4 linked regions of the Homo sapiens genome follow. The protein of the gene in region 3 interacts with the protein of the main gene of each other region in a pairwise test. Each region holds a gene or a part of one and is shown on either strand. Other genes may lie near its edges. The genes, in order: ZNF385C, TBX3, PRR20E and SMAP1.

What was found.
Region 1: the proteins of PRR20E (region 3) and ZNF385C interact in a two-hybrid assay, tested with the Homo sapiens proteins (one large-scale study listed by BioGRID).
Region 2: the proteins of PRR20E (region 3) and TBX3 interact in a two-hybrid assay, tested with the Homo sapiens proteins (one large-scale study listed by BioGRID).
Region 4: the proteins of PRR20E (region 3) and SMAP1 interact in a two-hybrid assay, tested with the Homo sapiens proteins (one large-scale study listed by BioGRID).

Annotation. Positions count from the first base shown.
Region 1 is NC_000017.11:42,030,650-42,038,307, forward strand, and holds part of ZNF385C (zinc finger protein 385C), read right to left. Parts: exon of another isoform or gene 7,583-7,658; intron 7,237-7,582; coding exon 7,088-7,236; intron 3,687-7,087; coding exon 3,576-3,686; intron 1,136-3,575; coding exon 970-1,135; intron 1-969.
Region 2 is NC_000012.12:114,676,103-114,683,760, forward strand, and holds part of TBX3 (T-box transcription factor TBX3), read right to left. Parts: 5' UTR 7,099-7,658; coding exon 6,710-7,098; intron 6,533-6,709; exon of another isoform or gene 6,190-6,532; intron 5,045-6,189; coding exon 4,777-5,044; intron 3,871-4,776; coding exon of another isoform or gene 3,811-3,870; intron 3,550-3,810; coding exon 3,403-3,549; intron 1,555-3,402; coding exon 1,478-1,554; intron 369-1,477; coding exon 211-368; intron 1-210.
Region 3 is NC_000013.11:57,164,145-57,172,507, reverse strand, and holds PRR20E (proline-rich protein 20E), read right to left. Parts: upstream 5,312-8,363; 5' UTR 5,098-5,311; intron 4,944-5,097; 5' UTR 4,925-4,943; coding exon 4,873-4,924; intron 3,852-4,872; coding exon 3,238-3,851; 3' UTR 2,290-3,237; downstream 1-2,289.
Region 4 is NC_000006.12:70,671,741-70,679,398, reverse strand, and holds part of SMAP1 (stromal membrane-associated protein 1), read right to left. Parts: intron 1-7,658. UniProt on the Homo sapiens protein: GTPase activating protein that acts on ARF6. Plays a role in clathrin-dependent endocytosis. May play a role in erythropoiesis.

The sequences.
Region 1 (7,658 bases), on a different chromosome or scaffold from region 3:
CTCCCCCAAAATTCACATCTATCTGGAACCTCAGAATGTGACCTTATTTGGAAACAGGGTCTTTGAAGATAAAATTAGTTAAGATGAGGTCATGCTGGGTTCGGGTGGGATTGATCTAGTGACTGGTACCCTTATAAAAAGAGCTTGTGGAAACACAGGGACACACAAGGGAGAATGTGGAGATGGAGGTGGAGATTGGAGTGATGCGTCTATAAGCCAAGGAGTGCCAAGGAATACTGGCAGCCACCAAAGGCCAGAAGAGAAGCATGGGACACTTTCTCCTCTAAGCCCCCAAGAAGGAACCAATGCTGTCAACGCCTTGATTTCAGACTTCTGGCCTCCAGAGCTGTGTGAAAATAAATTTTTGTTGTTTTCAGTCACCCAGGTTGTAGTCTCTTTTTTTGGGGGTGGGGGTGGGCAGGGGAGGTTAGAGACAAGGTTTTGCTCTGTCACCCATAGCTCACTGCAGCCTCGACCTCCTGGGCTTAAGCAGATCCTCCTGCTTCAGCCTCCTGAGTAGCTGGGACTACAGGTGTGCATCATCATGCCTGGCAAATAAATTTTTTGTAGAGACAGGGTCACACCATGTTTCCCAGACTGGTCTCAAACTCCAGGCTTAAAGCAATCCTCCCGCCTCAGCCTCCCAAAGTGTTAACCATCACAACATGTGAGCCACCATTCCTAACTTCACAAATGAAGTCATTTGTGAAGGCAGCCCTTGGAAATGAATACTTCAAGGTAATGACCAGGAGGAGGTGCAAGACAAGCTTCTGAGGTGCTGGTAACGTGTTTCCTGATCTGGGTGTGTTCAGCTTAGGAAAATTCATGGCGTGGTACACTTGTGTGCCTTTGCCTGTCTGTATGGAATACTCCAACACAAGCAAAAAGAATAAGCAGAAATCTCTCAACCCCTTGTCGGAAACCAGATTTGGAGTGGAGACGTGGGAAAGAGAAGAGCTCAGGACTGACCTTTACTCTGTGGCTCTCCAGGGGCTCCACTGGCCAGCGTTGGGATTGGGGACACTACAGCCCCATCCTGGGCCTGGGTGTGTGGCCTCTGCTTGCTCTTGGCAGCCTCGACAGCCTTGAGTTTTCTGGCGTGTTTGTGGCCTTTATAATGTGCCTCGGCCTGGTTCTGGGGAGGGGAGGGCAAGAGGTCACCATTCACTGGCTGAGTCCACATGCCCCATCTGTGAACTGGAGCCCAGCAGGGGGACAGGTCAAAGGGAGGCAGGGCTCAGGTCACACAAAGGGCAAGTCCTTGTCCTTGTCATCATCATCACCATAGCACATGTGGCTCTGAGGTTTGCAGAATGTGTTCTCGCACATGAACTCCAAGGCAGGCTGCCTCTGGCTTCAGATCTGACCCAGCCACTTACTAACCACATCTTTTTGTTGTTGTTGTTGTTGTTTTTGTTTTTTGTTTTTTGAGATGGAGTCTCGCTCTGTCGCCCAGGCTGGAGTGCAGTGGCGCCATCTCAGCTCACTGCAACCTCCGCCTCCCGGGTTCAAGCGATTCTTCTGCCTCAGCCTCCGGGGTAGCTGGGACTACAGGCGCCCGCCACCACACCCGGCTAATTTTTTGTATTTTTAGTAGAGACGGGGTTTCACCATATTAGCCAGGATGGTCTCGATCTCCTGCCTCGTGATCCACCCGCCTCAGCCTCCCAAAGTGCTGGGATTACAGGCGTGAGCCACCACGCCTGGCCACTAACTACATCTTTAGGCAAGTAACATCTCTCTGAGCCTGAGTCTCCTCACCCATAAACCCTGTGATGATAATACTGACCTCATGGGGTTGTCAGAATTACATGGGAACATGAATTACAAGGGCCGAGTACATAGAGTAGGTGCTCAATGAATGTTAGTTATCAAGTGTATCAATGCACAAATGGAGAAAGCAGAGCAATCCCCACACTTTGGGGTGTATGTACCCCAGAACATTCATCCCTTTGTTCATTTGTTCAACAAGTCATTACTGAGCATTTGCTATTTGCCAGGCACTGTGCCCGGGGTCCGGCAGGAAGAAGAATGGTTCCTCCCTCAGAACGAATTCTCTCCTCCATCTTTTTTTTTTTTTGAGACGGAATCTCGCTTTGTCACCCAGGCTGGAGTGCAACGGGAGCAATCTAGGCTCACTGTAACCTCTGCCTCCTGGGTTCAAGCGATTCTCCTGCCTCAGCCTCCCGAGTAGCTGGGATTACAGGCACCTGTCACCACAACTGGCTGCTTTTTTTTTTTTCTTCTGTATTTTAGTAGAGATGGGGTTTCACCATGTTGGCCAGGCTGGTCTCTAACTCCTGACCTCAAGTGATCCACCCACCTTGGCCTCCCAAAGTGCTGGGATTACAGGCATGAGCCACCACGCCCAGCCTCTCCTCCATCTCTTGCAGGACTCATGGAACCAGAAGGCCTGAAGGGAATCCTCAAATCTGGTCTGTCAGTGTCCTCCCTCCAAGGGTCCTCACTTGCTGCTCCCCGGCCCACCTCCTTGAAACATGGGAAAGACAGGCCCCCATGGCCCCTCCCTGGATGCTATACCACAGCAGTTCTGCTGGCATCCAACCGAAACCCCAGATTGCCTAACAGGAGGTAGACCTTCCCTGGGAGGCCAGAATGAGGTTCCTCCTCTACCTAGTGGTAAGATGTAGTAGAAAGGGGTAGGCTGTAGTAGAAAGTCATAGACCTTGGGGTCAGCCAGGCCTGGATTCATATCCCAGCTTTGCTACTTACCAGCTGTGTGGTCTTAGGCAAGTCACTTAACCTCTCTAAGGCTCACTTTCCTCATCTGAAAATCGGGGATTATAATAGCGCCTCTAGGCCAGGCGCGGTGGCTCACACCTGTAATCCCAGCATGTTGGGAGGTTGAGGTGGGTGGATCACTTGAGCCCAGGAGTTCGAGACCAGCTTGGGCAACATGGTGAAACCCTGTATCTGCCAAAAATATAAAAAAATTAGCCAGGCGTGGTAGCACATGCCTGTAATCCCAGCTACTAGGGAAGCTGAGGCACAAGAATCACTTGAACCCTGGAGGTGGAGGCTGCAGTGAGCCAAGATTGCGCCACTGCACTCCCGCCTGGGTGACAGAGTGAGACCTTGTCTAAAAAAACAAAACAAAACAAAAAAATCCCGCCTCCACCCGTCTCACAGATGTATCATGAAAACTATTATTTAAGGGGATGGGCATGATCACATTCTGTAAACTCTCAGGTGCCTTAAGAGCTCAGCTCCAGACCAGGAGCTGATGAGATGGGCCACTGGGACCTGGAGTGGAGGAAGGGCAGTCTTCTCTCTTGCAGAAGGATCCAGAACACAGGAGAGAGGCCTGGGGGGAAGGAAATGGAATCCCACTGGGCTACAGCTGGGCAGAAGGGGAAGGGGCAGAAGAATCTAGAGAGAGGAGAGGATGCGATGGTTAAAGGACCAAGAGTGCCTCTTCTGCAGCCAGGGTGGAAAATACCGACCACAGCCCCTTTGCCACTGATATTCCTCCCAGAAGGACTCTGAAAGCCCAGCCTCCAGCCCTCTCCCTGCCCAGCCCCCTCCCCAGACCTGCTTTCACTACTTTGTCTCACCGCTGAGTTGAACCTCAGGTGACAGATGTTACAGGAAATGAACAGCTTCTTCTTCAGAGGGGAGGGGACACCAAACGTGTGGCTGATGACAGCTTTCTGGACCGGGTCCATCTGTGAAGGGAGTGGGAGGGCATAATAACTCTGGGGTTGGCTTGGGAAGCAGGGGTCGGGGGCAGCACAAAATGCCCAAAACTAAAGATGACTGAAGAGGGCCTTGGTCAGCTTCTAGGAAGAACTTTTCCATCCTGTGGATGTTGGAAAGAGAAACAGCTGGGCCAGGCGCGGTGGCTCACACCTGTAATCCCAGCACTTTGGGAGGCCGAGGCAGGCAGATCACCTCAGGTTGGGAGTTCAAGACCAGCCTGACCAACATGGAGAAACCCCATCTCTACTAAAAAAAAAATACAAAATTAGCCAGGTGTGATGGCGCATGCCTGTAATCTCAGCTACTCGGGAGGCTGAGGCAGGAGAATTGCTTGAACCAGGGAGATGGAGGTTGCGGTGAACCGAGAGCAGGCCATTACACTCCAGCCTGGGCAACAAGAGCGAAACTTCGTCTCAAAAAAAAAAAAAAGAAAAGAAAAAGAAAAAGAAAAGGAAAGAAAGAAGAAGAAACAGCTGCCTGGGTGCAGTGGCTCACGCCTGTAATCCCATCACTTTGGGAGGCCAAGATGGGTGAATCACCTGAGGTCAGGAGTTCAAGACCAGCCTGGCCAAGAGAAACTCCTTCTCTACTAAAAATACAAAAATTAGCCAGGTGTGGTGGCACGTGCCTGTAGTCTCAGCTACTCAGGAGGCTGAGGCAGGAGGCTTGAACCTCAGAGGCAGAGGTTGCAGTGAGCTGAGATTGCGCCACTGCACTCCAGCCTGGGCAACAGAGTGAGACTCTGTCTCAAAAAAAAAAAAAAAAAAAAAGAGAAGAGAAAAGAAAAGAAAGGAAAAGAAAAGAAAAGAAAAATACACAGCCTCTCCCGGCTGTCTTTATTTGTCAGCCTAGGCTTCTGCTTGGAAGCAGGGGAATGGCCAGAGTGCCCTGCATGTTTCTGGGACATAGAACCATGTCCTGGTGATCACCTTGGCATCTCTTGGTGCCCCTTAGGTCATTATTTTTGTTTTTTGTTTTTCTCCTTTGCAATAATTACAACTATTGGGACAGAGAGTTGGAAACAAGGAGAGGCAGGGAAGAGACAAAGAACTCGTCTGTTGGAATTTCCTCTCCCATCACCCAGGCTTCATGCAGGGACCTGTGGGCTGGGGGAAGATAAGTCCTATCTCATCAGCTCTATCACTGTCACAGGGCCTGAGGCTGCTGACGACCTTTTTTTTTTTTTTTTTTTTTTTTTATAAGATGGAATACTGCTCTGTCGCCCAGGCTGGAGTGCAGTGGCATGATCTCAGCTCACTGCAACTTCCACCTCTCAGGTTCAAGTGATTCTGCTGCCTCAGCCTCCCGAGTAGCTGGGATTACAGGCGCCCACCACTACGTCTGGCTAATTTTTGTTATTTTTAGTAGAGACAGGGTTTCACCATGTTGGCCAGGCTGGTCTCGAACTCCTGCCCTCAAAATGATCCGCCTGCCTTGGCCTCCCAATGTGCTGGAATTACAGGTGTGAGCCACCGTGCCCAGCCATGACGACCTCTCTTGAGAGAGTGAGAGCCACAGCCAGGGGAGGTGGGGGGCCAGTAGGGGGCAGGGAGCAGCAAGTGGAGGCCTAAGGTTCCCCAAGGAGTAGGATCGTTTCTTTGGAATATTAATTTGGATTTTTTTTCTTTTCCTTATTATTTTTTTGAGATGGAGTCTCCCTCTTGTCGCCCAGGCTGGAGTGCAATGGCGGAGCCAAAATCTTGCAACCTCCGCTTCCTGGGCTCAAGCGATTCTCCTGCCTCAGCCTCCCAAGTAGCTGGGACTACAGGTGCCCACTACCATGCTCGGCTAATTTTTGTATTTTTAGTAGAGATGGGGTTTCACCATCTCTGTTGGCCAGGCTAGTCTCAAACTCCTGACCTCAGATGATCAGCCCACCTCAGCCTCCCAAAGTGCTGGGATGACAGGCATGAGCCACTGCACCTAGCTTCTTTTCCTTATTTTAAATCATTTTTTTCTTCTATAGAATTAAGGCTTTATGTTCCCTTTTCTCAGGAAGTTGGGCCAAATGCAGCTGTCTGAACTTGTCAAGAACTTTCCAGGCTGGGCGTGGTGGCTCACACCTGTAATCCCAGCACTTTGGGAGGCCGAGGTGGGAGGATCCCTTGAGCTCCAGAGTTTGAGACCAGCCTGGGTAATATAGTGAGACCTCATCTCTGCTTATATAAAAATAAAATAAAATAAAAAAGGAACTTTCCAAACCTTCCCAAGAAAAGAAAACAGAGCTTAGAGAGAAGAACATGGGTGCAGAAACTTCCCTGAGAACAGAAAGTGGTTCAAATTTTCACAGCACCCAGGGCCAGCAAGGGGCTCAGGGGACAGGACCTCAGAGGAGAATGGCCTGCAGGGGCCCCCTGCAATTGGAACCATGCCATTCAACAGTGAGCCTGTCAGCAAGCGACAGCAAGGACTCAAGACCAGAGGACCACCCCCCAAATGCCTCAGACTCCTTAGGACCTCTGTCTAACTCTGGAGGGTGGGAGGGAAGGGATTCCTAAGTGTGACTGAGGTGGAGTTTGCCACCATCTGCTCAGGATGGGGCATGCCACACCCATGATTTCACTTGAGTTTTCAAAATTTAAAAAAACAGAGATGGTTGCTGATCCCTCATATAGTGAATTAAAATTCATATACTTGTTATGCACACGTGTACAAGGAAATGTACAGACTAGGACACACACACAGCACAGAAGCTTCAGGCAGTTACAAATGCTCAGACAAGCAGAACAATTCACACTCATGCACACAAAGGGCACATGACCACAGGTAAACTCACAATCACCCAAGCCACACAAAAACACGCATGCTCAGAGGGCAGATACACGCCAAACACACAAAAGACACAAGGACACAATAAACCCTCAGATTGTGCAGGCACATACCTTAATTACATAAAATTACCCATGCACAAAGAGTTGTTTACAAACACACGTTGGACACCAACACACAAACTCACATCCACATATAACATACAAAACCTATAGAAACTACAACAAAAAGGCACAGGTTACACACACACACACACACACACACACACACACACACACACACGTCATCCACAGGAGCGCCTACACAGAAGCTTAAGTGGAATGCACAGACTACAGGCCCTTGCAGGCCCAGCAGCTATGATGGTGGGGGTGGGGAAAGGGCTGACACCATCTTGTTCCCCAGCCTAAGAGAGAGCGGGTCCCTCTCTTAGGATCCCAAATAGGGGTCCCTATTTGGGGAGCACCTATCCCCTCTGGGGGATGTTGGAGAAAAAGCTCCTGGTTAGACCCAGCTGCTGAGAGCTGGACCCTCTGAACCCACCTTCTGTGCCCACCCACAAGCTTGTGTGCATGCCCCCACCCGCCAGCCCAGCCCATACCGTGCTGAAGTTGGGGAAGAGACTGAGCGGGGCAGCGCCATTGAAGTGGAAGGCGAGCAAGTGCTTGAAGTCCAGCGGGGGCTGCAGAGGCCGGGTGGGCAGGGGCAGGGAGGCCAGCAGGGGGCTGGGGGCGCCGGAGGCCGGGCCTGCTGCAGGAGGAAGAAGGGCAGGGTCTGAAATGGGCTCTGTCCTACCCCCGTGGCCAGAACAAGAGGCGGGTGGGCTTCTTGGGTGTGGAGCTGGGCAGAAACCTGTGTCTCTCTTCACAGAGTGGCACCAGCCAGACCCATAGTGATTATAGCCCCCTTCTCTGTGCCCTTCCTCCCCACAGCTGGGGAAGCAGAGGCAGGGAGTCCACAGTTGAGGCTCCCAGCCCAGAGGGATGACCCTCCTGCCCCTACTGAGGCAGCATACTGAACCCCAGGGCAGCCCAGCCAAGAGAGGGACAGAGGGGTCTGGGCAGGCCCTGACACACACACCACCATGGAGACTGCATGATGTGCTGGGATTCCATTTTATTGCAAATTAAACTCAAACCCAGGGGTATTAGGAAAAGGCTAGCCCTCGCCCC
Region 2 (7,658 bases), on a different chromosome or scaffold from region 3:
GAAAGGCCTCTGTGCTCTCCTTCTACTGCCTTAGCGGGGAAGGGGAGACACACCTGATAGCCCTTTTTGAACTCTGGCTTCTGTTTAAGGATGTTTAGAAGGCTTCTAGCTTTTAAAGGGCAAGTGCCCTGGTTGGTGCCCCATCCCCCTTCAACTCTTCCAGGCCACGAGGGACTGGAGTCCAGTGATCACAAAGGTGACATGGTTTACCTTTGAGGTTCGATGTCCCTACAGTGGAGGCGGCTGGAGAAGAAGCCTGGGCGAAGCAGTTGAAAGCTGCTTGTTCACTGGAGGACTCATCAGAGGTCCCATTCTCCTTTTTGTGTCTTTCATCAAACACCCTCATGGACTGCAGGGTGAGCTGTTTTCTGTGGCAGAAGCCCACACCCAGGTTACAGAATGTAACATACATTTCCCCTCTTTGTTTCCCTTACCCTTTCCAAAGCGGCACACACATACCTCACACCCTGCCTGCTGCCCAGGGACAACGCTAATTCACTGAAATCTGCTTGCCCCAGGGCAGCCACATAGACCCAAGCTTTGTCCTTGACCCTCTAACTGGGCTGAAGAGTGTGGCAGAGGGTTAGGGAGAAAGGAAGGAGGCTTCAGTTGCATTTATTCAAGATGGGGTTTCATTAGGAAAAGGCATTTGCTTGGGCTGTGAAATTTTATTTAAAAGCAGGAGAAGAGGCTGGATCTAGTCAGAGACAGCTGGACTGCCAGCCTTATATAGGGAGAACCGGGTGTCCAATCCTGCAAACACAACGCTGTCTGTCCCCAGCATACCCAAATTTTGGATGGTGGCTAAGATTGGGAGGAAGTGGTTATTTCATGCTGCACTTTACTGTAATCGTTTTACTAACAAATTAATTGGAATAAAAATATATTTAGCTGTTAGCAATTATTTTTTAATGCCCGCCCCAAGGGGATAGGTTAAAAATTTGGGGGTGATTTTCTGGATTTTAGAAATTCTTTGAAAGGGGGTGGGGGAGGGGAGACCCTCTTTCATATACTCTCCAGCTGTCTACGTAATGCAAAATGATACATGTCCCCACGAAGGAGGGAGAGAGCCATACATCTTTCCGAAGTCCCCAGCTCTGTCTGATGGTATTTGGAAGACAGGATTGCAAAAATTCCCAAGTATTTTCTCAATGGCATGGTTCTTTCTGGGACCTGCCTAGGATGAACTTAAATTAATTAGGAATTAATAGGCATCCCTGTATAATCTATTATCCCTGATGCTTCTCTTCCAGAGATAAGTATGGTGTAGCCTAGTTAATTTCCTTAAAGGTAAGGAGGTAGGAAAAGTACTTGTCCTGGGTATACTGATAGCGGCAAGCATGTAGCAGTGGGGAAAGTGAATGATTTCCACCCGCTCTTAGGATAAGTGCCTGCATCTCACTTCTAACACTTCAGAGTTGGATCCTAAAAAAAGGGATTTTTCTAAACTATCTAATAAATAATTGTTTCAACTCACCTTTTTTCTCTTCGGCCATTTCCAGTGTCCCGGAAACCTTTTGCAAAAGGGTTGTTGTCTATTTTTAACTGGGTTATCTATTGGAAGAGACACAAGCAAGACAGAGACATTGTTCTCATTTTCTAGAATGTTTTGAGGGTGTTTTTCCCAACTCAACAAGTCTAGAGATGTGACTGCCAACAGAAGTCATATAGATATGCCAGGGAAAGGAGATAATAAGGAAACTGTGGCAGGGCTTGTATCTCCTATATGAGGCCAAACCAGGGATTTGGGGATGAAATTATTCAAAGAAATTCTTTTCTTTGGGCAGCCAACAGTTTGGGTTTAGACATGGAAGTGTTGTCAAAGTCATCAAGAGGGAAAACCTGTAGATCTTAAAATTATGCTTTCATTTTGATTTTTATACAGTGCAATTAATCATAAATTATAGCATACTCCCTTCACACACACACACACACACACACACACACACACACACTCCTTTTCCATGAATCCAATAAATGATTTATGGGGTTTCACTACCCTTGTGCGGGAGTGAGTGCGGGAGTGAGTTTAATTTTTTTTTTCTTTGCCTGGGGGGTGGTTTGAGGAAATTACAATATTGACAGTTACAGTACTGAATGACCACTGGAAACATCTGTTTTCATTTATATGCTCTGCCATGGCCATTAGGTGGAGAAGGCCCATGGCCTTTTTGTCTGATCAAAAATGCTACATTTTATTATTACATTAACAACTTCATTTCACAGGATTCTGGGTCTAGAGGGCACATGCATTTTGCACTTTGAGAAAAATGCTATAGTGTGTAATCTTTCAAATCCCTTCCCCTTGGTGGGAAGAAGAAGTTATATACACAGAGTTACTCAGAGGTGGAAAGGGGGACCCTTGGTTGGATTCATGTTCTTGGAATAAATTGCTCTATTGAAGACTTCAGGTTTCACAGGGAGAGAAGATCATGTTTTGGTATTCACACTAAAGAAATTTAGCTGGAACATCCCCATCATGAAGTCCACAGAGGACCCAAGGACAGTGACAATGACAGTGAGTTCAAAATGAAGTGTGTTGTCAGGTAAAATGGACTCTCTTTGAAGTCCAGGATTGCAGAGCAGGGGTCTTCAGTCCCTCCTCCCACCCCATAACTGCTAACAGCCAATCTGGGAACTGGTGAATCAGCAGTAAGGGTCACTTTTTCTGTGCCCATGACCTTCAGGCCACCATAGCTCTAGATATCAGGTGCTTTCCCTTTTGGGGATCCTTCTAACCTCCAGATTCAGGCCTGGGGGAGGGGGGGAATTCAAATGAAGTGGTGACTTTGGCCACCCCAACTCAAAAGCCTCAGACAACTCGATTAATATGACCCTGTGATCAGGGTAGGTTTTTCCAACCACACGCATGCATGCACACACATGCACACACACACACACATCATAACACAGCAGCATAAAAGGTAATAAAAACCAGACCAGCTACTCAGGATTTCTGGCTAGGGGAGAAAAGCTGGTCTCTACTAGGATTCTCCTCCCAGGATCCCAAATGGCTTTTGCCTTAAATTTTTAGCTGGTTCCTTTTGAATGTGACTTCTTGATCCTTCTTCCCCAAGGGGAAGAAGATGAACCTTAAAACAGACAGGACAAAGCCCAAGAGGGGGGGAGGAGTGGGTGGCATCAATGACAGCAGTTCTAGGAGTTTCTCTGTGGCAAAATTAGTATGGCGTTTTTTTGCTCAGCATTGTTCCTACCTAGTCAAGGTGTTTTTCTGTCTCCTCGAGGTGTCATTGTCCTTTCCCCCCAAATGCTCCACAAATCACAAAAGACAACTCAAGACTCTCGTCTCCACTCTCTTGTAACTTTCTCATCCTGACTTAAAGCAGCTTTTAAGGGGAAGGCAAAATATCACCATTAAAAAGGAAAGCCCCTTGAGTTTACCTTATCATTCTGGTATGCAGTCACAGCGATGAATTCAGTTTCGGGGAACAAGTATGTCCGAAATGTACTATAAGGGAGTTTCAAGATGTCATTGGCTCTTACAATGTGGAACCGGGGCTGGTATTTGTGCATGGAGTTCAATATAGTCTGCAGGGGCAGGGAAGAGGAGACATACATAAAACAAGGATTTAGCAGAACAAACGGGATCTTAGGACCCCTGCCAGGCTGAAATCTTCCCCACCGCAGGGTACCACGCTTGTACCGAGCCCACCTCCTTGGAGTACCCCCTGGGTACGTTTCGCTCCACAGATGTTATCTTCTGGAGAATCCAAATTGCTCCTCAGTTGCCAAAGGGCCCCCCCCACCCTCACCATCTAAGGATCATTCATACCTTGAACCCTAGCCTACCTGAGTACCAAAACTATAATTCCCCTGCCACGTAGCGTGATCACTTGGGAAGGCCAAAGTCTTAAAAGATAGAGAAAAACATGCATTTTAATTTACAAAATGATTCAGTACTTTAAGCGCCCACTAATTGACGAGCCCAATCCACTTAAAGCCCTGAAAGGCTGAACTCTAGAGAGGAATATTTATGCCTTAATCAAATCAAGGGCTTCAAATGCAATTCCTGCCCGCTGAAGATATTTCCGCGCCATTCGCGTCTTCCTGGGCCTAATCTTTCTGCTTACTCCTTGCTTATCACGCTGTTTATTTTATTGAAATGTTGGGGAGGGGTAGGAAAAGGCGCAAAAGGTCCTTTGCCTGATATCTACAAGCAATGAAAGTTTTCTAAGTTTCTAAGCACTGTCACTGAATCCATATATACACTCCCAACACACAAACCATTTTTTTCTGAAGATCTAAGCCTCATTTAGGGTAAGCCGGACTCCCACCTAAGCCCAATTCTTTTTTTAGTAAAAGAACGAGTTTTTAAAAATGTATTCACACCATTTAACCAACAGAGTCAAGGCTCCGAAACGTAAACTCTCCTGAGAAAATAATATCACTGGTTTCAAAACAGAAGTATGATATTTTAAAACAAAACAAATCCTTTAGGAATACATAGCCTTGAAATTGATTTTAGCTCTTAAAAAATGGTTTTTAACTTCACTCTCAGGTCAGGAATCTACCAAAGAGCTGGAATTGCTATAGAACACAAGCCGGTAAGTTTTCTTGCCCCATTTCTTTTAGAACGCCAGGCCTTCCATTATTTGGAGAGAAACACCCCGAATCCTTTTTCCAGACGAGGACAAGTTTGCTATGCTTAGGGAGAAGCAAAGGAGAAGTCTGGGCTGAAACTCATGAAATGGGAAGCACTGCCTTTGACTGAGTGAAGGAGGAGAAAATTTTACTGAAGAGAGCAATGAAACTTACAAATCCATGTTTGTCTGAAATGTTGTTGGTGAGTTTCAGTTTGTGGAAAGTGACGACTTTGGACATCCACTGTTCCCCAGTAGCGGGGCTGTCCGGGTGAATGTACATCCTCTTTGGCATTTCGGGGTCGGCCTTACCAGCCACCATCCACCGAGAATTGTGAAATTTATAACGACAGTCATCAGCAGCTATAATGTCCATCAATAAAATGTATTTGGCTTTTTTATCCAGCCCAGAACATCTCACTTTAAATGGAGGAAACATTCGCCTATAAAACGAAAGAATAGAAAAGAAAAAGAAAGATAAACCACCCGTAATCTTGGGTTTGATTTCCTATGTATCACATAATATTGAAACCAAGTCTAAGACTTTATATTGTGACTGATAAGCTTACATGTTTCAGAGTGAGGCAACTGGTTGCAAAATCGTTTTCTTCCACAACTAACGTATTAAATATTCTCAGTTTCGCCATATTTAGACGTCCCAAGGTTCAAAACAAATGCATTGTGGCACTGCAATTCTCTACATTGTCTAACAATTTCTTCAATATTTTTTTTGTCCTTGCTTGACTTTACAGATTGCCCTCCTGAGAGCAAATTCTTGCCCATGTCTTTTTCTGTGGGTATCTAGATCTAAACAGGTTGGGGTAAGATTTTTGTAAAGCGCGGTCAGTTAAGACTAGAATTTTCCACCACCCATTGATGAGAAAATGTTAAACTTATCAAGGAAATGAACGTCAAGTTGCACCCCTCCCTGCTGCAGAATAGCAATCCCGCTGTGGGCGAAGTGAAACTGGACTTCAGTGAGTTCCCAGAACGAATTTTGCAGACTTCGGTGCACTCCTGGGCCTGATAACCGATCTGCCCGTGGAGCTGCTAACACATTCCCCCACTTCTTAGGCCAGTCCAAAACCGCAAGACTGTGCCACCACATTGCTGTTAATTTCACAGAAGGGTTGGCATTCTGTAGTCTTGACTTAAAAGGAAGCAAGGAAGCACTTTGCTGGAAAACTGACTAAATGTCTTGTGAGTTTGAGGAGGATTTTATGCCAAACTTTGGCCTCATTTAGCTTGGAAGGAGACAGAACGCTTAAGATATCATGAAGGGGATTTTATTTTTGTATCAACTTTATGCCTTTACAGGCTTCAATGCTATTACAAAAAAAAAATCAGTGATTTTAAATGACTATTACAGGATCTTCTCTTCCAGGCAGGTTTTGGTCAGGCAAGGACCTTTAAACATTATGTAAAATATGGTTGATAATATTCACACATTAAAAAAAAGGTGTGTGTCTCCTCACTGGCTCCTTAAGTCTGCAAACATAATCTTAAATTATGCAAAATTGCCTGCTGAACTCGCCCTTGGGTTACAGACACGTGAAGTAGTGTGGGCAAACAAACCAAAATGCCCTTCGATTTCTCTCTGACCAGGGCAGCAGCAGGCCCCTTTAGACCCAGAGGCTAGACTGGAGGGCAGAAAGGGCCGGGGAATGGTGTCAGGCCTCCCAATACCCACACAAAAGGAAAGGGCTTTAAGTTTTTCTCTCTGAGAACAAAATAAAACAGACAACACAACATCAACAAAGAAATAAGGATGTTCCAGGAGGGTTTGAAGAGTGAGTTTCTTGCAGTAGAGTGCCTTTTTTTTTTTTCTTTCCTGCTCCCTGCAGGGATGTCTGTGCTCCACTGAAAAATTCTGTCTGTTCGGGAGGGAACCCAGGATGCAGACCAAATGCAAGACCCATGCAGATGCCCAGGTAAGCTGAAATTTCCTGCCACCGGGGCAGGGCCTGGAAGTCTGTGCATACATTTCTAGGGGAACTAACTTTTCGTCCAAGCCGTAATAACCGACCAACCGACTGTTCTGGGAGCAGAGAAATAAAGGGAGGAAAAAACTCTCCAACAGCTTAGGGGAGGAGGCCCCCACTGCTTACCTTCCCGACTTGGTAATGACCATCTCGGTGCCCCGCTTGTGAAACTGATCCCAAAGTTCTTTAGCCTCCAGGTGCACCTTGGGGTCGTCCTCCACCTCTTCTTCGGGCTCCATGGTCTTCAAAGGCCTCAGATGCGCCTGGGGCCCCAGGGAGGAGAACGGGATGCCGGTCTCGGCCGCCCCCACCAATTGATCCATGATCGGCTTGGCCAGGGCGCCCGGCAGCGAGAGCGCCGCCGCGCCGTTGGGAGGCAGCGTCAGCGCGGGGAAGAACGGCGGCTGGTGACCCAGCACCGCGCTCATGGCGAAGTCCGGCGCCCGGTGAGGTAGGAACGGATGGTAGGCCATGCTTGTCCCAGGAATGACCGGATCTCTCATGGAGAGGCTCATCCACTCCAGGCGGGGCGCTGGGCTCCAGCCGGGGACAAGTCCGCAGCTGCTGTGTTTTGTTGTTTTTTTGTTGTTGTTTAACAGCAGCACATAATTCAAAAGGGGGGAAAAAGCAAAACAAAAAAGAAAGAAAAAAGAAAAGGAGGCAGAAATCACAACTAATGCACTTCAAAGGGAGGAGGGGAAGTGTCTTTTGGAGAATGGGAGGCCGCTTTTAAAGAGGGCAAGGCGAAAAATCAGCAAACATAGTCGCGCGGGTGACCGTCCTTGTGCCTTGCGTTTTTAAAAAGCCGCTCCTGAACGTCGGTTTCAGAAGCGAGAGGAGCGAGCAGGGTCTCGACTCGCGCCCGAGCCCTGCCGCTGAGCTCGAAATAGACACTCCAGCCCTGCGTCCCAGGAATCTCTCTCCAGCCCCTAGGTCTTTTGTTGCAAATGTGAAAGGTTCTCCTAGAAGACTTTTTACCTTTCTTTTTCTTCTTCCCCCGCCCCCTATCTGTCTTCCTCTCCCTCTTTCTCGCTGGTGGCGTCTGCAGCTGTGCTAGACCCGGCTTTAACAGGGA
Region 3 (8,363 bases):
TGAGCGCCACCACATCGGGAATAATTTTCGGATTTTTTTGGAGAGACGAGGTTTCGCTATGTGCCCAGGCTTGTTTGGAAGGCCTGAGCTCAAGCCGTCCGTCCCGCTCAACCTCCCGAGTCGCTGGGACCCCAGGCGCAAGCCACCATGCCGGGCCAATTATTTTTTTGGGTTGTATTTCCTGTTGAAGTGAGGTTTTGCTATGCTTTCACCTCACATACCTTTTCTGTCCCAAGACCCCATCCAGGGTACCACCTTACAACTCGTCACGGTTCCCCTTGGCTGCGACGGTTTCTCACACTTGCCTTGTTTTTGATGACCCTGACACTTTGAATACTGATCAGATATATTGTGGGATGTCCTCTCCTGAAGTTCGTGTGATGTATTCCTTGTGATCTGACTGGAATTATATGTTTTTGTCAGGAAGATTGCAGCGGGAAAGCGCCATTCCCATCCCATCCTGTCTAGAGTACACACCATCAAGCCGGCTTATCACTGCTGCTATTAGTCCTGGTCACCGGGCTGGGGCAGTGTTGATTAGGTTTCTCCACCATAAAGTGATTTTCCCACCTCTTTCTCTACTGTGCTTTCTGGAAGTCGCTACCTGTAGCCTATACGTAAAGAAAAGGGAAGTTTTGCTTTATCTCCTTGCAGGGGAATAGCTACCTAAGTTCTGTGGAGTTCTCCTGTGTGGAGGATTTTCCCATTCTCCCCCACATGTTTGTTTATTTAATCACTTATTTATATCCGTATGGACTTATGGACACCTATTGTATGCTTTGGTTTACACTCCAGTACTTCGGGGGATGAATTATTTAATAATTGAACTAATTATTTTGTCAAATATTTTACTTAACTATTTAATTATTAATTATTTAGCTAATTACTTTGTTACTCAACGTTTCCAGCTTTGGCCACCGGGAGCTCCTTTAGTTGGCTTCCGTGTCCCTTTGTCAACCTCCCATCGCTGTGGCTTTTGGCTTTGTTTGGTTTTGGGCGGCTCCTTTCTCCCTGGCACCACAGGATGCTCCATGCTTATTTGCATATTCTCATCCTTATTGGGATTTCGTGTGCTCACTGACCGAACCCATAGATTCTTCTGTGAAGTTTCTCTTCAAAACTTTTATCTTTCTTATTGGGATAACTTCTCTCTCTCTTTTTTCCATTTTGAGACAAAGTTTTGCTCTTGTCACCCAGGCTGGAGTGCAATAGCATGATCTCGGATCACTGCAATGGCGCAGTCTGGGCTCACTGCAACCTCCGCCTCCTGGGCTCAAAGGATTCTCCCGCCTCAGCCTCCCGAGCAGCTGGGACTACAGTGGCCCACCACCATGCCTGGCTAATTTTCCTATTTTTATTAGGGCGAGACATGAGAATCGCTTCAGTCCCGGGAATGGAGTTCTCAGTGAGCCGAAGCCACCGCGCTCCAGCCTGGGTGAAAGAGTGAGAGTCTGTTTCAAAATAAATAAATAAATAAATGAACGAATAAATAAACCAGGAGGAATTACCAAGGGCTCTTGGTGCCTGCCTGCAGTCTGAGCTACTTGGCAACCTGATGTTGGAGGATCACCCGAGCTGAGGAGGCGCAGGCTGCGCTGAGCTGTGATTGCACCACTGCACTCCAGCCTGGATGACGGAATGAGACCCTGTCTTACTCCACGTACCAATGTTTAGTGAAGCATTCTGGTGGTAGAAATATCCTGGAAGTAGCGTATCAGCAGACCACCACCTGCATAATGTAAAAGCTGTGCATCTTTCCAGACAGATATACAGCAAGAAGATAGTGGCACATGTGCGTAGGATGACTGCAAGGGGGCTTTCTGGCTTATGGATGACAGACCCCAATGGCAAGCCAAGAAGCAGCTCCCACTGCACAGTGCTCATTGTGCTCCATGCCATGCTTCAATACGAAGTCGCCTGTTCCTAGTTTGGAGACGCACGGACTCCACAGAGGCTCTGGTCCTGACCACACCTGTGTTGCCTGCCTGGACCTTATAGTCACTTCAGCAGGACCCCTGGCGCATGGCACGCCAGGTGTTTGTAAAAGCGAGCCACAAACGATGCTCTCAATGTACACGTTTGTTGGTGTAGACTTGTGTGACTATGGGGAAAGATGCGATATGAATGGAGAACAGAGACTGGAGCCATTTTTCTACCTTCCTTTCTGCTTTTAGTAAACACATTTTGTATTTGCGATTTGTGAAAGTTTAGTGAAAGAACTGTTCTATAAAATAAGTCTGAAGAGAAAGGTTTATTTAGAAGGATTGAGTACACAAGAGAAAAATCTTTGATGTAAAAAGTTATCTGTATTTTATTTGGACGTTTACAAAGGAGTGAAAACCAGCCAACAACAGCCTACCTAATAAAATACAAAATACAAAAGTTCATAATACAACATTTATCAAACTCTGAAAAGATGGGAACTAACTCAACTTAAACATCTAAGAGACACCTACAGCCAACATCTTGGTTAATGGTGAAACATTCAAAATATTCCCATTAAAGCCAGGAGGAAGCCAAGGACACTGCCGTCAAATTACTGATTCCTGGTTTAGCGGTTCCAGTGAGTCATGCACTCTCCTTGCTTCCGTTAACCGCCCCCCCCCCCACCCCAACACCTTTTGTCTGATTCGTCACATGTCCTTTGATCCCCTTTTTCCTCAATCTGTTTGAAATTTTACCTTCTATTCCAATTCATTTAGTGGTTCCCAAAGGGTACCCACGTTGAGACTTAAAAATGTGTCAGTCTAGATTTTTATTGCTCTTATATTCAGCCAGTCTATCGTCTCCAGGCACTAGAGAAGCACTTTAGTAACTTCTAGCTCCTTCTGAGTTTTCGCATGTCCCACATGTCTATATGAGTGTCTTCTGGAATTTTAATTCTAGGTCATCAATCCTTTTTCCAGAATCGTACTTCTCTGGACTTAAGAATACAGTTTCCTAATTTCCATGCTTAGTGATCCTTGTTGCATCCCACTTCTTCCAGGTTGTCTGGGTTGGCTTCTTCTTGGCTGAAAAACGTGACGTGTACTTTCACTGTACATGACAGTTCCATTCCAATCGCCTTGTACAGAAAGGGTGTTTGGCAGCTTGCATGTTGTAAGTTGCGTACTCCAAGTTCAGGGGAAGCTCAGGCTTCAGGTCCAGTCGGGGGAGGAGTGGAGCAGAAGTGGGGCTGGGGGGAACGTCCAGGTGGAAGGAAGGGAGGCTGGGAACAACGTGGGTGGCAGATAGTGGTCAATACGCAATGTCGGTGAGGAACACTGGGACCCCTTGCACGTAGGTGCCCTGGGGGGTTTGAATGACTTGTAAAACCGCTGAGTCACCCAGAGCCCTAAACCCGATGCAGGGATAGAGGGTCAAGACGGGTTGCCAGTCAACAGCCTGAGGCCCAGGAGCAGCGGGCGGCTCCTGAAACCCCAGCTCAGGTTGCGCCACGTCGGGGCCAGGGCCTTCCTGCACAGTTCCAGGCGGAGGACCTGTTTCAGAAAGGGAGAAGGCTGCGGTCTCCGTGATTTCCGGTTCCCCCTGGTGGCCTGGCTCTCCATGGTGGTCCAGTTGGATGTGCACGTCCGGTGCCATCAAGCCTTCTGCCCCCTGTCTCTGGCCAGCGTCCCCGCGGGGCCCAGCCCTTCTGCCACGGCCTCGCCCTGGCCGCCGGCTTCCTCCCCGGCGCCGGCCTCTCTCTGCAGGAGGGGGTGACTCTGGGCGAGCTGGGGGCTGCCGTCTGAAGGGTTTCACGTAAGCGATGGGTTTTGCGGGTTGGGCTGGCTGTGCGGGCCCATCTGCTTCCACGGAGCCTTCAGGGTCCGCAACACAGCAGCCTGGCTCTGGAGGAGGCCCACCTGAGGCTAAAAGAGAAGCGGAGCGTGAGCAGAGAGAGACAGAAGGAACTTCACCCGTCAAGCAGTTATAGGATACTTTTACAAATAAATACTCAGAGAAAAGAGGGATTTCTGAAGTTAAAATTGTGAGAGAAGAAACAAAACTCTCCACGGAAGTTGGAGAAAGAAGTTGAGAAGGTCTCCCACAGAACAAAGCAAAAACCTAAAATGATGGAAAGAAGGATGAAATATAAGAGAATTAGAGGTATGCTGTGGCTGAGACATTTCACCAGAAAATTTCAGAGTGCTGAGGAAAAAGAGAAGATTCTAACAGATTCTAGAGAGCGGGAGACAGAGAAAGGAAAAGTCACATGGAAAGGGCTAGGATTCCACATGTCTCAAAAGTCAGACATCTCAAAAGCAGCAGTTCAGTCTAGAACATAACAGAAAATGTCTTCGAAATTTCAAGGGAAATGAATTTCCCACCTAAAATTTCCTGTCCAACCGAAGTTTCGCTGAAGAATCTGGGAGGGGAGAATGAAGATGTTTCAGACAAGCAAGATGTTAAAGAATTTCCTTTCAGTGGATGCTTTATTGTTATGCATCTGTCAAACTAGACAAGATTAAAAGATTTAGGACACTCAGCGTATGAAGGGAAAAGTTTTGGAGAACAACGTGGCAACAGCCGGAAAATTCCAACTCCTCCGGGAAAGAACAAGGTGGAAGTACCGGTTTATCATAGATCAAGACGTAGCGTGAGGACTCGCTCTGCTACGGAGAAACAGTAATACAAAACTAAACAGAAGGAAACAGCGACAACAACAGCAAATCTCAGATTTGGGAAATGGGATTACGGTTCGGAAGAGGGAAAGGAATTTCCCAGATGATGTGGAACCCGGGAGCTGACTTCCAACAAGCAGCCCAGGTTGAGGCAGGCTAGGAGAAGGTGAAACAGAGAATGCTTGATTGAGTTTGAGTGTCAACCATTGGGGAAGAATTGGGGAACAGACGAAATTAAAAAGAGAGGAGTGGCAGGCGTTTGATGTACCTTGATTAGGGGCCATGGAGCGAAGTCGCTTCGAAGGCCTTGGTTCCTCCATGAGCAATCGGCGGGAGGGGCTGGGGAGAAAAACAAGAGAGCAAGAACGGATTTAGGAAGACAGAGGTGACAAGGCAGGGGGATGGCCGTGGCCTTTCTAGGGGAATGAGGATTCTGTCCCCAACTGCACCCACCCGAGATCCGTCCACGCCTCCGGGACCCCCAGACACACACCTGATCTTCCCACAGCTGGCTCCGGAGATCTGAAAATTAGGAGACTCTTCGACGAAGAGAGGCCCGAGGAGTCGGAGGTGTCCACAGGTTCACCGCTGTAGCTCTGAGGTAGTCCACCCGCAGCCAGGGAGTCTGGAGGGAGCACGCAGCAGGTTCTGGCTCCGAGCCCAGCAGAAAGCCGACTGCTGGAGGCCGAGCGCCGTCCCTCTTATATGGCAGCAAGGCAGTCGCGTAAGGGACAGGCGTCGTCAGAGGGGGGCCGGCTGGGGCGGGCCTGGCTGGGCTTGCGAGGCGCATTGGGCCAGTCCCCTGCCAGTCAAATGGGGGCCCTTCTGAGATGCCGCCATTTCTAGACGTCCGTGGTTGATTGATTAATCTAATCATCGAGGAAAAAAAATTGCATAATGACCTCTGAGTGTCAGCACAATGAGGTGTGGTGCCCTGAAAGCGGCTGACAGGAAGATGCGATTAGCTTAGATCTGAGCATGGTCAAGGAAAGCATCCAAAGCGGGGATATCTGGGCTGAAATCTGGAACATAACGTTTGAAATTAGTCATCCTGAACCGGGTTGGGAGAGGCAGGGAGGGAGGAAGGGGAGTGAAGAGAGTGTGCTGAGGCCCGGACTGGAAGGGAGCCCGGCACATTCTGGGAATGGACGGGAGGCCAAGTCCAGGCCCGGAGGTGGTGCGAGGTGGAGGCAGGGTCCGCGCAGGAGCTGGTCTTGTTCCAAGGCAGCGGAAAACCGTGGAACGGTGTCCGGCAGCGGGTTAACATTTCAGAAACGACCAGCCTGGCTGTGAAGGAGCGCCAACCCAGGGTCCGCAGAATAAGTCAGGAGAGGCAAGAAGGCTATTGCAGCCCTCGGGGTTGGGCGCAGGGTGCTGTTAGACTGAGACTCAGGGAGGTAGAGGAGGAGAAAGTTCCCTGGTGGGAGAGAAATTTCCAAGAGAAAGCGAGACCCAGTGTGGACAGCCCTTGAGGAAGAGACTGCGGCCTTGGTAGCCCGCCGGTTCATTCAGGCAGAGGTGGACCGAGAACCTGCTCTGAACGGGAAGTTGCGGAGCTTGGCTTGCGCACATCTGGTTGAAGGGGCTTTTGAACTGCCAAGTGAGGATGTCAAGTGGCCTTTTGTAAAAAGAGTCGAGCTCAGCGCGATGGCGACGGGGCTGGAGATGCGTGTGAGACCCACACCGCTGGCTTTTATTGCTGTGGGTGCACTCACGGGTGGAGGAAGACAGCGGGAAACACAGCAGGACGCTGGAGGGGATCCCACAGTGGGTTATTTGGTTGGTTTGCATCCTTGTGTCTTTTACAGAGACGGGTTCTCGCTCTGTAGCCCAGGCTGGAGTGCAGCGGTGCCATCTCGGCTCGCTGCGGCTACTTGGGGGGGGGGGGGGGGGGGGGCTGAGATAGGAGAATCAGTTCAAGTGATTCTCCTGTCTCGGCCTCCGGAGTAGCTGGACTACAGGTGAGCGCCACCACATCGGGATAATTTTCGGATTTTTTTGGAGAGACGAGGTTTCGCTATGTGCCCAGGCTTGTTTGGAAGGCCTGAGCTCAAGCCGTCCGTCCCGCTCAACCTCCCGAGTCGCTGGGACCCCAGGCGCAAGCCACCATGCCGGGCCAATTATTTTTTTGGGTTGTATTTCCTGTTGAAGTGAGGTTTTGCTATGCTTTCACCTCACATACCTTTTCTGTCCCAAGACCCCATCCAGGGTACCACCTTACAACTCGTCACGGTTCCCCTTGGCTGCGACGGTTTCTCACACTTGCCTTGTTTTTGATGACCCTGACACTTTGAATACTGATCAGATATATTGTGGGATGTCCTCTCCTGAAGTTCGTGTGATGTATTCCTTGTGATCTGACTGGAATTATATGTTTTTGTCAGGAAGATTGCAGCGGGAAAGCGCCATTCCCATCCCATCCTGTCTAGAGTACACACCATCAAGCCGGCTTATCACTGCTGCTATTAGTCCTGGTCACCGGGCTGGGGCAGTGTTGATTAGGTTTCTCCACCATAAAGTGATTTTCCCACCTCTTTCTCTACTGTGCTTTCTGGAAGTCGCTACCTGTAGCCTATACGTAAAGAAAAGGGAAGTTTTGCTTTATCTCCTTGCAGGGGAATAGCTACCTAAGTTCTGTGGAGTTCTCCTGTGTGGAGGATTTTCCCATTCTCCCCCACATGTTTGTTTATTTAATCACTTATTTATATCCGTATGGACTTATGGACACCTATTGTATGCTTTGGTTTACACTCCAGTACTTCGGGGGATGAATTATTTAATAATTGAACTAATTATTTTGTCAAATATTTTACTTAACTATTTAATTATTAATTATTTAGCTAATTACTTTGTTACTCAACGTTTCCAGCTTTGGCCACCGGGAGCTCCTTTAGTTGGCTTCCGTGTCCCTTTGTCAACCTCCCATCGCTGTGGCTTTTGGCTTTGTTTGGTTTTGGGCGGCTCCTTTCTCCCTGGCACCACAGGATGCTCCATGCTTATTTGCATATTCTCATCCTTATTGGGATTTCGTGTGCTCACTGACCGAACCCATAGATTCTTCTGTGAAGTTTCTCTTCAAAACTTTTATCTTTCTTATTGGGATAACTTCTCTCTCTCTTTTTTCCATTTTGAGACAAAGTTTTGCTCTTGTCACCCAGGCTGGAGTGCAATAGCATGATCTCGGATCACTGCAATGGCGCAGTCTGGGCTCACTGCAACCTCCGCCTCCTGGGCTCAAAGGATTCTCCCGCCTCAGCCTCCCGAGCAGCTGGGACTACAGTGGCCCACCACCATGCCTGGCTAATTTTCCTATTTTTATTAGGGCGAGACATGAGAATCGCTTCAGTCCCGGGAATGGAGTTCTCAGTGAGCCGAAGCCACCGCGCTCCAGCCTGGGTGAAAGAGTGAGAGTCTGTTTCAAAATAAATAAATAAATAAATGAACGAATAAATAAACCAGGAGGAATTACCAAGGGCTCTTGGTGCCTGCCTGCAGTCTGAGCTACTTGGCAACCTGATGTTGGAGGATCACCCGAGCTGAGGAGGCGCAGGCTGCGCTGAGCTGTGATTGCACCACTGCACTCCAGCCTGGATGACGGAATGAGACCCTGTCTTACTCCACGTACCAATGTTTAGTGAAGCATTCTGGTGGTAGAAATATCCTGGAAGTAGCGTATCAGCAGACCACCACCTGCATAATGTAAAAGCTGTGCATCTTTCCAGACAGATATACAGCAAGAAGATAGTGGCACATGTGCGT
Region 4 (7,658 bases), on a different chromosome or scaffold from region 3:
GCTAATTTAAGTAGTACTTCATCATCCCATACCATCTTAAATACACCCAACTCTGTACCACTTATAAAAATCTAGATTCTGGCCAGGCGCGGTGGCTCAAGCCTGTAATCCCAGCACTTTGGGAGGCCAAGGCAGGCGAATCACTCGAGGTCAGGGGTTTGAGACCAGCCTGGCCAACATAGCAAAACTCCGTCTCTACCAAAAATACAAAAATTAGGCGGGTGTGGTGGCACACACCTGTAAGCTACTCCAGAGGCTGAGACAGGAGAATCGCTTGAACCGGGGAGGCAGAGGATGCAGTGAGCCGAGATCATGCCAATGCACTCCAGCTTGGGCGACAGAGTAAGACTCCATCTCAAAAAAACAAAAAAAAAAAAACAAAAAATCTAGATTCCATATATAATTTTTATCACAAATCCACTTTGTTAGGCAGAATAATGGCCCCCAAAGAAGTCCTGTTCTATCCTTGGAATCTCTGTGAATAACTTAAGGACACTGAGATGGCAGTATTGTCCTGTATTACCCAGATAAAGCCAAAAGGTCATAAACATGCCAGAGAAGATGTAATGATGGAAGTGGAGGGCAAGGAGGAGCAGAATCAAGGATGACACACTGCTAGTTTCAAAGATGGAGGAAGGAGCCATGAGCCAAGGAATGCAGGTGGCCTCTCCAAGCTGGAAAAGAAAACAGATTCTCCCCTAGAACCTCCAAAAGGAATGCAAGCCTGCTAACACCTTGCCTTTAGCTCAATAAGACTCTTTTTGGACTCTGACCTGCAAACCTGCTAAAATGATAAATTGGTATTGTTTTAAGCCATTCAGTTTGTAGGATTTTTTAATAGCAGCAACAGGAAATTAATATACTGGTGATGATCATTTCACTTAAACATTCTTCTGTTAATTTTTTTGTCACTGTGCACCATCATCACCCTACACCAAAAGCAACTTCCAAGAGTAGAAATGCATGAACTAAATAACGCCCTAGGCTAAACATAATTTTTATGAATTTTTCCTATAATGGAAGATAAAGCTATCCCAAATATTATTTCCCACAGAATTCCCCTTATTTTCTTAAGTTTAGGCTTGAGCTCATCACTGCTCAATGAAAGGCACGCTTTATAAAAGATCAATAAGAGACATCTGAAGGTCTACCATCAATCACTTGGATCTCTAGTCAAATGGAGACCAAAAATTGCTGGGGTATAGGGGCCACAGAGAATGGAAGATTATTAGAATTACTTTTAATTCTCTTTCCTTCGGACCCTCAAGGTCCTCACATTTATCACTCAAAATATATGTAAACATCAAATTAGCATGTTTCCAAGAGCACTTTATCTAAGCTCTGTTTTAAGTGAAATAATTTTAAAAATCACTTCTATATGATACTGTAACTAAATGCCACTCCAAGTTAAACACAGTTCTACCTAACATCTGAGTAACTAAATGCCACTCCAAGTTAAACACAGTTCTACCTAACATCTGAGGTAGAAATACTGACATTAATAGTAAGAAAGCATTACAGTGAAACAATTTTAAACAAAAGGACTCCTCAACCTGTGGGGAAGAGTTGTATGAGTTGTGTGATATAGCTTGGGATAATTAAAGATAATACTAGGTAAATTTGCTCAGCAAGACCTAAATCATCAGTGAAAAGCTTTAAATAAAAACTATAAAAGTTTGATGACAATCCATATCTCAATAGGACTCAAAAAATAAACTCTCAATAATATAATTTTTTAATAATAATAGTAAACACTGACATAGAAGTCACAAGGTATGCGGCGAAACCCCGTCTCTACTAAAAATACAAAAAATTAGCTGGGCGCGGTGGCGGGCGCCTGTAGTACCAGCTCCTCGGGAGGCTGAGGCAGAAGAATGGCATCAACCCGGCAGGCAGAGTTTGCAATGAGCCGAGATCGAGCCACTGGCACTCCACCTCAAAAAAAAAAAAAAAAAAAAAAAAAAAAGAAGTGACAAGGTATGGGATTCAAGAAAGAACACAGACCATACAAGGTTGAAATAAATCTTTGCAATAAGGATTAAAGAGAACAAGGACAACTGGTCACTAAGCAAGTCAGAGGCAAAGCTTGGACTGAATCCTAGCTTTGCTCAACCAAGCTAGTGTTCTTTCAATTCTATCATGCTGTTTCTATGGTTTAAAAAGCCCAGGTAGATGACCAGTATCTGACCTAAGGATATAGCAAAAAAAAAAAAAAAAATTATATATATATATGAAGACAAAACAAAAAACAAAGAAAAACACTAAAGCACTTATCTGTGGACTCAGTAAGTTTCTAAAATAAAGTTTACGCAAGGTGAGGTGGCTCACACCTCTAATCCTAGCACTTCAGGAGGCCTAGGCAAGAGGATTGCTTGAGGCCATGAGTTTGAAAGCCCAAACAACATAGCAAGGCCCCTCCCCACCACACCCAACAAAAAAATTTTTTTTAAATTAGCCATACATGGTGACAAGCCTGTAGTCCCAGCTACTTGGGAGGCTGTGGCAGGTGGATCACTTGAGCCCAGAAGTTAGAGGCCGCAATGGGCTATGATCACGCCACTGCACCCCAGCCTGGGCAACAGCATGAGACCCTGTCTCTATAACAAGGAAAAAATAAATAAATAAAATAAACTTTAGTGATGAGACAAAAATTCCAATTTGTTTAAACTGGTATTTTGAAGTTATGGTGGTTCTGCTATTAAATGCAAGGAGGGAAACTAAAATGAAGATATTGTCCACATTTGAACACATTTGGCAATAATCTGAGAAAAACCTTAAGTTAGCCGAAGGTGACAGTCTTCCCAACAACAATCTCTTACATCACAAATTTCTACAACAAAAACAGGTGTTTTATCTATCATACCATCAAACATAGTTAACAGCACAGACTATATCTCCCGGGCTCAAATCCTGACTCTACAGTTCAGATTCCCACCCCTATCTCATCTCAATAAAATCACAATTTCCCCAGGTTATAAAAGCCTCTAATGTTCATCCTTGCTCCTCCAGACTGTACCCTTATTAGCAGGCTAGGTTATAGAGCCAGCACAGATATACTGAGGCTCCAACATGTCCTGTATAATATACTGGAAGAAAATATATATTACCAATTATGCTTTGAGTTCCCCAAGACCACCCTCATGTTCAGTAATTTGCTAAGAAGATTCAAAAGATTCAATATACAGTTGTACTCATCGTTATGATTTATTATAGCAAAAAGATACTAAGCACAATCAGCAAAGGAGAAAGGCACAAAAAGTCCAGGGGAAATTAGGAGCAAGCGTCCGGGTGCTCCCTTCCAGTTGAGTTGCAATGAACACACTTAATTCTCCCAGCAGTGAGCTGTGACCACACATGTAAAATGATGCCAACCAGGGATGCTCATCAGAGACTCAGTGCCAAAGGTTATTAGGGAGACTGGTCATGTAGGTAACCCTGGCTGGCACATATGCCAATTCCAGAATCCCAGAAGAAAAGCAGATATTCAACATAAACCATATTTATTATACAAACAACTTAGGCACAATGACAGACTCATCACTTAGGGTGGTGGGACCATCCCCAAGATTCCCCTCAGATGTCAGCCAACCACCGCAAGGCCTGCTTTGTTAACTCTTTTCTCCACACCAATGACTAACAGATCCTTTTGAGCATGAACCTTATCTACCTATCCCCTGCTAATCCCCAGGTCCTAAGAAAGTGCCAGTCACTCCCCTCCAAGTTGTTTTTTTCTTTTTTTTTTTTTTTTGAGATGGAGTCTCGCTCTGTTGCCCAGGCTATAGTGCAATGGCACGATCTTGGCTCACTGTAAGCTCCGCATTCCGGTTTCAAGTGATTCTCCTGTCTCAGCCTCCCCAGTAGCTGGGATTACAGGAGTGCACCACCACACCCAACTAATTTTTGTATTTTTAATAGAGATGGGGTTTCACTATGTTGGGCAGGCTGGTCTCAAACGCCTGACCTCAGGTGATCCACCCACCTCGGCCTCCCAACATGCTGGGATTACAGGTGTACACCACTGCTCCAGGCCTCCTAAAATTTTTTTAATGAAAAAATTTCTGGCTCCACTACTTTAAGTTCTGTGTACCTGGGTAATAATATTACCTACCTCAAAGGTTGTTTTGAAGATTATATGAGTTAGTATATGTAAAGTGTGAAGTACATCATCTCTGGTAAAAAAAAAAAAAAAAAAAAAAAAAACACTATATAATTTGTGAGTATATATGTAATGTTATTATTTGCTTTTTTTTTTTTTTTAACATTCTCCAGGTCACAATGGAGCTACCCTATCTCTAAACTTCTAATGAATCTACCAATGTAAACATAGATTAGAAGTTAACTGGTAATTGTTTCATGTCTACTGAGATCTCTAACTAGCTTGTAGACAACTATATCCAAAACTTTTTGTTTTTGTTTTTTTGAGATGGAGTCCCACTCTGTCGCCCAGGCTGGATGGAGTGCAGTGGCGCCATCTCGGCTCACTGCAACCTCCGCCTCCAGGGTTCAAGCAATTCTCCTGCCTCAGTCTCCCGAGTAGCTGGGACTACAGGCATGTGCCACTGCACCTGGCTAATTTTAGTATTTTTAGTGGAGACAGGGTTTTGCCATGTTGGCCAGGGGTGGCCTCAAACTCCTGGCCTCAGATGATCCACCTGCCTCAGCCTCCCAAAGTGCTGAAATTACAGGCATGAACCACTGCACCCGGCATCCAAAACTTTTTTAACACACACAGTAGTATCTAACGTAGTACTTAATCTTTTTAGTGCCCAGAAAATATTGATTTATCAACAAAATTAAATGTCTGTTAAATCAACTCTTTACAGTGGTAAGAATGTAAGGCGGTCAACTCTTCTGATAATAACTACAAAATGGCCTCCAAGTTTCTTTGATCTTCTTTCATTGAGAAAATTGAGAAACTGAACTAAAATGGCTTAATTCTAATCCGTGAAAAGACGATTAGTAGAAGCGTTTGAAATAAGCAAAAGGGGCTGGGTGTGGTGGCTCACACCTGTAATCACAGCACTTTGGGAGACTGAGGGAGGCAGATCACTCGAACCCAGGAGTTCAAGACTAGCCTGGGCAACATGACGAAACGTGGTCTCTACAAAAAATACAAAAATTAGGTAGGCATGGTCGCACACATCTGTAGCCCCAGCTACTTGAGAGGCTGAGGTGGGAGGATTGCTTGAACCAAGGAGGGAGAGGTTGCAGAGAGCCTACATCGCACTCCAGCCCAGCGACAGAGTGAGACCCTGTACCAAAAAGAAAAAAAAAGAAAAAAAAAATGCCAAAGCACTTTTTTGAGTTTATAAAGTATATCGTTTTAAACATTCTACTTTGCCTTAAAGAGAGCATGGATTCAAGTCTGTTATAGGTTAATAAAGGTGGAGAAAGATATATATATATATCTTGTACAGCAACAATTTAGGAGATGTAAGCCTCCTTAATTAATGAAGTCAAGTACTGAAAGTTTTATCTTAAACAAACAAACAAACAAACAAAAAAGACAAAGAAGAACTGTGAAGAACAAAAGGAGGGGAGACAACATGCAGCCCAAGTTTTAAACTGATGAGTCAGAGACCAATGATTTCCATCTCAGCTCTGATACCAGGGCTCTGCCCAATCAGGAAAAACCTCGAGATCAGCAGAATTACAAGAACAACAGACCCATCAGACTGAAGTTTCACATTTTGAGGAAACTTTTAGATTGGCAAATTTCTTTAGGTGAATTATAATCAGACTTTCACTTATATAAATTTGTCCTATAAGCATCAACATCATAATAAACACCAGTTCCCCAAGGTGAACTTTACTTTTTAGTAAATATTACTACACTTTAAAAGTAACAACTCTAAAATATCAAAGACTTAATGAAAAACATGAACTCTTGGATTGGCTCTTGCAATCAAATGGGCTCTACACGTTTCTACTTTTTGAAAAAGTTAGAAAGCTAAAAGACTCCCTTGAAGGCAAGGTATTGGACATAATTAGGATCTGCCAATTATCTGCACATGGAAAGCACAAGTGGGACAGAGGCCACATTCCTACAGAAAGGGCAACTAACAAAAAACGTCTACAGACACTAAGTGGTTGCAGCTCCATAGGCCTTATGCCCCCATCAGCATACCAGTCTCCTGGGTGAGAAGCAGTTATGACAGTGGGGCAGCGGTAGCAGTGGTGGTATGTGTGGCCTTGAAAGCAGTTCAGCAGTGGCTCCCTGACTTTCCCTCCTCCAGCCCTTCCAATGACTTGGTAAGTACCTGATTCCTGAAAATAGCTACAGTGGATCTCTTTCCTGCTCTATACCCTGACTTATATATTGACATTGTGTGAATTTAGGTCCTCTTGCCCTCTTCTTGGACCACTGTTCAACATCTCCTAACTCAGGATTTGCCTGCAATCCTCACTATCCCAGTTCTTCCTCTGACCTGAGACTACCAAAACTGATCATGCTTAAAGAAAGCTTATCTAGTAAGGGCCGTATGGAAACTTCTTCTGTTCTTTCATACTGGTACATGTGTGTGTGCAGCTGTGTCCTTTAATTCCTTCTCTATCTGATGAAATCCCACTCCACCTTCAGAACCTAGCTCAAATGAAGACTCCTTCTGTGACTGGTCCCAACAGGGTCACTCCACATGCCACTCCCTTTCACAGGTGCACTCCCTTTCACACACCCTGCTGCCTGCCAGGGGCTCTGTGCTCATTCATTCACACATTCATTCATTCAAAAAATATTTGCTAAGTTACATTTGCCTACCACATGTCCTGAAAACTGGGGATACTACCCTAACCAAGATAAACAAGGTCTCCTCTCTTACAGCTATAATCCAGCAGGGATACAGTGTACCCCATAATTACCTAAATAATGTTTAATTACAATTGTGATAAGTGCAATAAAAGATTCAGGGTGTTGTCTTTTATGTATAAACGGAAGCCTAACCTAATCTCAGAGGATCAAGGAGAATTATTTCCCTTGAAAAGACATTTAAGCAGGAATTGAAAGATGAGCAAAAGCTGAGCAGGCAAAAACTTGTTAGAAAGCTTCCCAGGCAGAAGAACAGCACGTGCAAAGGTCTTGAAACAGCATTCTAGGAACTGTAAAGACCACCAATGGGCAAAAGTCAAGGTGCAAGGGGAACAACAGCCCAAAATAAGTATAGAGGTAGTTATTTCTTAAAACCATTATTACAAGCACTTAGCACATCGTTTTAGAATCATTTATTTGCAAAAACACAACCCACACTAAACAAACTCCTTTAGGTCTTACAAATTTTTTTAGCTCTCTTACCTAATACAATATCTAACAGTGTGTCTTCAAGTCAAGATCTGCGGAACAAAGAAACGAGTGTTTGATCTCAGCAATGAGCTTACCCTCTCAATATCAGACAGGCTAAACAAAACAATCTCTAGAGTTAAAAAACCTTATGTTTCTGACTACCCAAAATTGAATGGGCAAGAGACTCACTTTCATACCAATTTAAACATGCTCAAAATCAAACCTAGCAAAAGATGGAAACAGACCAAATGTTCATCAATAGACGGATAAATTGTGGTCTATCCATACAATGGAATATTATTCAGCCATAAAAGGAGTGAGGTACCGACACATGCTACAAAATGAATGAACTTTGAAAACATATGAAGTCAAAGTCAGAAAC